2 separate regions of the Homo sapiens genome follow, and region 2 is linked to region 1. The links come from fine-mapping of genetic effects on gene expression. A gene starts in region 1. The other region holds a variant in brackets. All regions are shown on one strand. Distances are between the middles of the regions.

Region 1 (2,902 bases):
AGGGAGGAACTGGCAAGAGAGCACAAAGCCTGTCCCAAAGGGCTCTTGAAGCACATTCTTTTTTGCAGATGAGCATATCCCTTTAGCATATGAGCAAGAAAGCGGTGGCTAAAAAGCCTGGAGGTGAGCTGGAGCCAGATCAGAAGAAACCTGAACATCACTCTCCTAAAAAGGCTGGACTGAAATTAGTGGAGGCAACTCACCGACGACTTCTGACAAGATGGCAGAATTCAATGTTCGGGAAGATTAGTTACGTGGAGATGGGCTGGATGTGGCCTGGGTGGGAGTGGGGGTTTGAGTGCCACACTGGCCGGGATTCAGGGAGCAGATACTGGAAATGACGACAAAGCCCACGACTGGGAGAAGGGAGAAATGTTAAAACGCTGCCAAGTGACTAAGGACTAATTCTATTAACAGATTAAAAAGTTGATTTCTAGTATCTATTCAGGGAAGGACAAAATACAGGATTCTGTTTTACTTATAAATGTAGTTTTGGCATCCCACATCGCTGCAGCACGCTGTACTGCCGGAGACTAATTCCTCTGCGTTCCTAAAGGCTACTTCCTGCTAGCCAAAGCACATTTTTAAAAAGTGAGAGTCATGGTTCATAATCCATATTTGGCAAAAAGCACAGGCAGTGCCAAGTTGAATTTGGGTAAGCAGTTTGGCATAAGCTATTTCAACAATGAAATGGCCGATGTGATGATCCTCAGGGAATACAAAAAGCCTCCTAGCAGCCTTCTGTTAAAAACTTTTTGGTAGGGATGAGTCTTTCTAGCTACTCTAAGACACATCTGATCAATAAAACGCCCATCCCGGAGCAGCATCTTGGCCCTCCGGAGATCAACGTTTATAGCGGGCTCCTCTTGGACTCTCCCTCTCCCTTTCCCTAAAGGAGCGGGCAAGACCAGGCCTCACCGGAAAACAGCGCAGCCGACCGCCCTCCACCCCGGGAGCAGGGGCCGGGCTCCCCTCCCCCAGCCGAGGCCGGCGGAGTGCGGCGCTTTCAAAGGCCTGGAGCCTGGTACTCGGCGCAGCCGGCCCTGCAGCCTCGCTCGCCCCATCCCGGCCCGCTCACCTCGACCCGGGCCGGCTCGGGGCCCTGCACAGCCACAGGCTGCGGCTGCAGCTGCTGGGCCGGCGCCGGCGGTTCTTTGTTCCGGTGGCTAAGGTCTTCATCTGGGCCGGCCCGGACCGCAGCCGGGGCCCACAGCAGCGGAACCAGAAAGAGCAGAAGCAGCCGGGGCGCCGATGCGCGGCCGTTCCCTGGAGCCGCGGCCGCCATCCCGCCTGCCGGGCCGGCCGCGCACGGGCGCCGCAAGAGGAAGTGCCGGCGACGGGAAGCCTCGACCCCGAACAGCCTCCGCGGCGCGTCCTCACGACTCGCCGCCGCCGCCGCTTAGGGAGCAGTCAGCACCATCCGGGAGGTGCAAGCAGCGGGAGTGAGGTGAGGGGCAGGCCGAAGTCCGCAGCCCCGGCTCGGCGCCCGTCCTCTCCGGCGGCGGCTAAACTGGAGTCAGCCAGCTGCCTCGGCGCGGCCCAGCCCCGACTCCTCCCGGCCCCGTCCCTGCCCGCGACGGCCTCCCATTGGCCCGGCGACCGCCTTGGCGTCGTGACGTCCTCTGCCAGGTTGAGGTGCGGCGCGGGCCCTCCTCCCATTGGATCCGGCGCTCCCGGCAGGTACCCGGCGCCGCGTGTCCTTCCTCTGCTCGCATCCTCACCGCGCCGCGCCCGGGGCTCCCTTTCTCTCTCTGTGCCCCACCGTCCCAGGACTGCGAGGTCCTTCACTTCTGCTTCCTCCAGAGCCTTCCGCCGTAATGTCCGCACCCGCTGTTCCCTGCGCTTAGTCTCTCTTAGAGGTCAAATTAGTGCGAGCGCCTCTGGTTACGTGGCGCTGACTCGCAGGCACTGCCACGCCCAGCTCTGTTCCGCTCTCCCCCGCCGAGCCTCTGTGCCACCCTCCATGTGGCCACCTACCGCCAAAAACGTTCTTAGGAGCTCAAAATGCTATTTTTTTTTTAAAGTTCTGAAATGGGATTTGGAAATAACATGACATTTTTCAAGCCTTGTTTTAAGATACTGCCTATAATTACCCCAGACCAAAAATGGCTAACGTTGCCCTTGTCCAGTATGGCCTTGACGTTTTGGGTGCATCTTGTTTTGTGCTATTCCTTAGACCCTTTAAAAATGCTGGGCTTTTGAAATGGACTGTTTAAGACTTTTGCAGGATGGAGCTTTGAGTGGGCAAGACTAGAAGACAGGAAAGGATGGTCTTGAGTTAGGCTTGAGAATATTTTTACGTCTTCCCAAAAGAAAAAGTGAGCTACTTAATTACCATAAGTTTGAGACCTAGTCCCTAATAAAAATCGATAGTGCTAACCATGTGCCAGGCACTAATCTAATATTATACATATTTACATACAGTAAACCTGTACTCAGTAAAGAGCTAAGGAAGTTTATCACTAACTGAAACAAAAAATTAATCCACCAAAACAATCTGTGGGAAAGTGGGCAAACCTACTTTGAGTTCACCAAAGATACAGTGTTTGTCACAGGATAATAAAATTTCCGTCTGTTTTTTTGTTTTGTTGTTTTCTTTGTTTTTGTTTTTGAGACGGAGTTTCGCGCTTGTTGCTCAGGATGGAGTGCAATGGTGAGATCTCGGCCCACTGCAACCTCCTCCTCCCGGGTACAAGAGATTCTCCTGCCTCAGCTTCCCGAGTAGCTGGGATTACAGGCATGCTCCACCATACGCGGCTAACTTTGTAATTTTAGTAGAGATGGGGTTTCTCCATGTTGGTCAGGCTGGTCTCGAACTCCAGACCTCAGGTGATCTGCCGGCCTCGTCCTCTCAAAGTGCTGGGATTACAGGTGTGAGCCACCGCGGCCGGCCTCCGTCCAT
Region 2 (2,902 bases), 32 kb after region 1:
TTGTTTTTACAAAAATGGTAGTCATATGTGTTAGGTAATGTCCCCTCCTCCCCCCATAAAACAAAAAATCCATTTCATTTCCTTCTCGTAAACAAGGTCATGGTTTGGCTCCCCTCTTCCTGGCTAGTGAGAGCTTAGAGACTAAAACACAATTTTCACTACCACAGTACTCTTTGTCCTCTCCTCTCAGGCAGCGTCACTTGAAGAAAAGCTCTATTGTGATGGGAACAATCACAGGAACTAAGCGGCAACAAAATGGCTCCCCACCCCCTCTGCAAATCCCAACTCCATGCAAGCACTCTCCCTTCCCTCATTTTCTTTTCTTTTTTTTTGAGATGGAGTCTCGCTCTGTTGCCCAGGCTGGAGTGCAGTAGCGCGATCTCGGCTCACTGCAACCTCCACCTTCTGGTTTCAAGCAATTCTCCTGCCTCAGCCTCCCCAGTAGCTGGGACTACAGGCGTGTGCCACCACGCCTGGCTAATTTTTTTTTTTAATTTTTAGTAGAGACAGAGTTTCACCATGTTGGCCAGGCTGGTCTCGAACTCCTGGCCTCAAGTGATCCACCTGCCTCAGCCTCCCAAAGTGGTGGGATTACAGGTGTAAGCGACCACGCCCGGCCTTTTAAAATCGACTTGAGTCTCATCTCCTGAAATGCAAAATGCATTGGGCCTGTCTCTTACTTCTGCATGTCTCATAATGCTTAGCACAGCACAAGCCCCGAGAGCGCATCATACACCCTGGGGTGGGGAGCTCCTGGCAGGGCTGGATCCACTCACCATTCCTGCCATCCATTGGCACTTGGCTCAGCACAGTTAGGCCAACAAGGACATAATAGACAAGTCCAAAACAGTACTGCACGACGTGAATCATGACATTGGAGAAGACACTGACGTAGAGGCACTCGAAGAGTCTTCGTAAGCTGTGCAGCCACAGAAATACTAGCACTAAGAATGCAGACAGTGCCAGCTCCCCTCCTACAATTCAGAAGGCAACAGGGTCAGCATTTCTCTTCTGGGATTAATCCAAAGTTTTGTTTTTCTGTACTGTTAAGCAAAGTATTAAATCCCATCTAACATCTTTCTTTTTGGTAGTAAGGAAGAAATGGGCCAAATGAAGTCAAGGAATTTGACTTCACTCAAATTACACAGTTCACTGTGTTACACAGTTCACTGGGTTCACAAACACCCATCACTCAATTCTGCTTCATTGTGTGACAGCCTTCCAGGCTTCAGGGACATCACGGTCAGGAGGTCTGTGAAGAGGTCTGTGGGTTTCTGGTCCTGGCACTAACAGCCAGATGCAAACTGGAAGCGTTCCTGGTAGCCTCTGAGTGGCCCCAGCTGTGGGATCCCCAGTATCTCAGGCATCACAGAGGCAGAGAGGGGGACAGGAACAGAAACAGAGTTATGCATTTCTTTCCACATTAAAAAAAAGAAATTATACTTTTAGAGGCATGCTGAGCCCAAGATCTACTTCCTCACCTGTCTTTCACGACCTGCCCACCAAAAAATCTGAAGAAAAGCTGGCTTTAAAAAAACACACACTTAGTTTCTCTTTTTTTCTTTTTTGTTTTTTATTTTTTGGTTAATTTTATGTGTCAACTTCTTTATT[T/G]TTGAGACAGGGTCTTGCTCTGTCACCCAGGCTAGAGTGCAGTGGCACAGTCAGGCCTCACTGCAGCTTTGAACTCCTGAGCTCAAGTGATCCTCTGTCTCAGCTTCCTGAGTGGCTAGAACTATAGTCATGTGCCACCACACCTGACTAATTAAAAAAAAATTTTTTTTGTTGCCCAGGCTGGTCTCGAACTCCGGGCCTCAAGCCATCCTCCAGCCTCAGCCTCCCAAAGTGCTGGGATTTTAGGTGTGAGATACCACGCCCAGTCACTTAAAAAAGAAATGAGTCACGGCCGGGGGCGATGGCTCATGCCTGTAATCCTACCACTTTGGGAGTTGGAGGCGGGTGGATTGCCTGAGCTCAGGAGTTCGAGACCAGCCTGGGCAACATGGTGAAACCCTGTCTCTACTAAAAATACAAAAAATTAGCCAGGCATGGTGGTGTGCGCCTGTAGAACCAGCTACTTGGCAGGCTGAGGTAGTAGAACTGCTTGAACCTGGGAGGTGGAGGTTGCAGTGAGCCAAGATTGGGCCACTGCAATCAGCCTGGGAGATAGAGCAAGACTCTGTCTCCATTAAAAAAAAAAAAAAAAAAGTCTCACACACAAACACACACACACGCATGCACACCATAAAGATGCAACTTAATTAACTTTTACAAATTAAGCCAACCAATCCCACCCATGTAACAGCACCCAGATCCAGAAACAGAACACTTTAGGAAGCTGAGGTTGGAGGATCGCTTGAGACCAGGAGTTTGAGACCAGCCTGGGCAACACAGCAGGTACCCCATCTCTAAAAACATTAAAAAAAAAATTAGCTGGGCATAGTGGCGTGCACCTGTAGTCCCAACTACTCAAGAGGTGGAGGAGGGAGGACTGCTCGAGCCCAGGAGTTAAAGGCTGCAGTGAGCTATGATCATGCCACGGCACTCCAGCCTGTACAACAGAGTGAGACCCTCTCTCTTAAAAAAAGAAAAAGAAAGAAAAAAATGAAACAAACAAAAGAAACAGGCTGGATGCGGTGGCTCATGCCTGTAATCCCAGCACTTTGAGAGGCTGAGGCAGGCGGATCACAAGGTCAGGAGTTCAAGACCAGCCTGGCCAACAGAGTGAAACCCTGTCTCTACTAAAAATACAAAAATTAGCCGGGCATGGTGGCGCATGCCTGTAGTCCCAGCTACTCAGGAGGCTGAGGCAGGAGAATCGCTTGAACCCGGGAGGGGTAGGTTGTGGTGAGCTGAGATCAGGCCACTGCACTCCAGCCTGGGCAACAGAGCAAGGCTCCATCTC

Direction of the effects. Alleles are on the strand shown, and positions count from the first base shown. SD is a standard deviation of normalised expression in the study named.
With allele T in place of G in region 2, the expression in nucleus accumbens of the gene that starts at base 1,518 in region 1 is higher (small effect, 0.20 SD a copy in GTEx).

The links. PIP is the estimated chance that this variant, and not a neighbour inherited with it, causes the effect. A credible set is the group of variants that fine-mapping cannot tell apart.
Region 2: its variant is the best candidate, but not a certain one, in a credible set for the expression of TMEM165 in nucleus accumbens (GTEx, PIP 0.72).

What each region holds. Positions count from the first base shown.
Region 1 is chr4:55,394,573-55,397,474 of GRCh38, reverse strand. It overlaps TMEM165 (transmembrane protein 165), which reads right to left and starts at 1,518. Exons shown (of 6, transcript NM_018475.5): 1 at 1,079-1,518. The coding sequence starts at 1,285. RefSeq lists silencers at 843-1,312, 1,513-1,712.
Region 2 is chr4:55,362,146-55,365,047 of GRCh38, reverse strand. It overlaps SRD5A3 (steroid 5 alpha-reductase 3), which reads right to left. Exons shown (of 5, transcript NM_024592.5): 3 at 777-974. Among named protein-coding and RNA genes, the nearest start is that of LINC02928, 14 kb to the left of the region's middle. RefSeq lists an enhancer at 1-472. The variant T/G (reference allele first, on the strand shown) is at 1,612.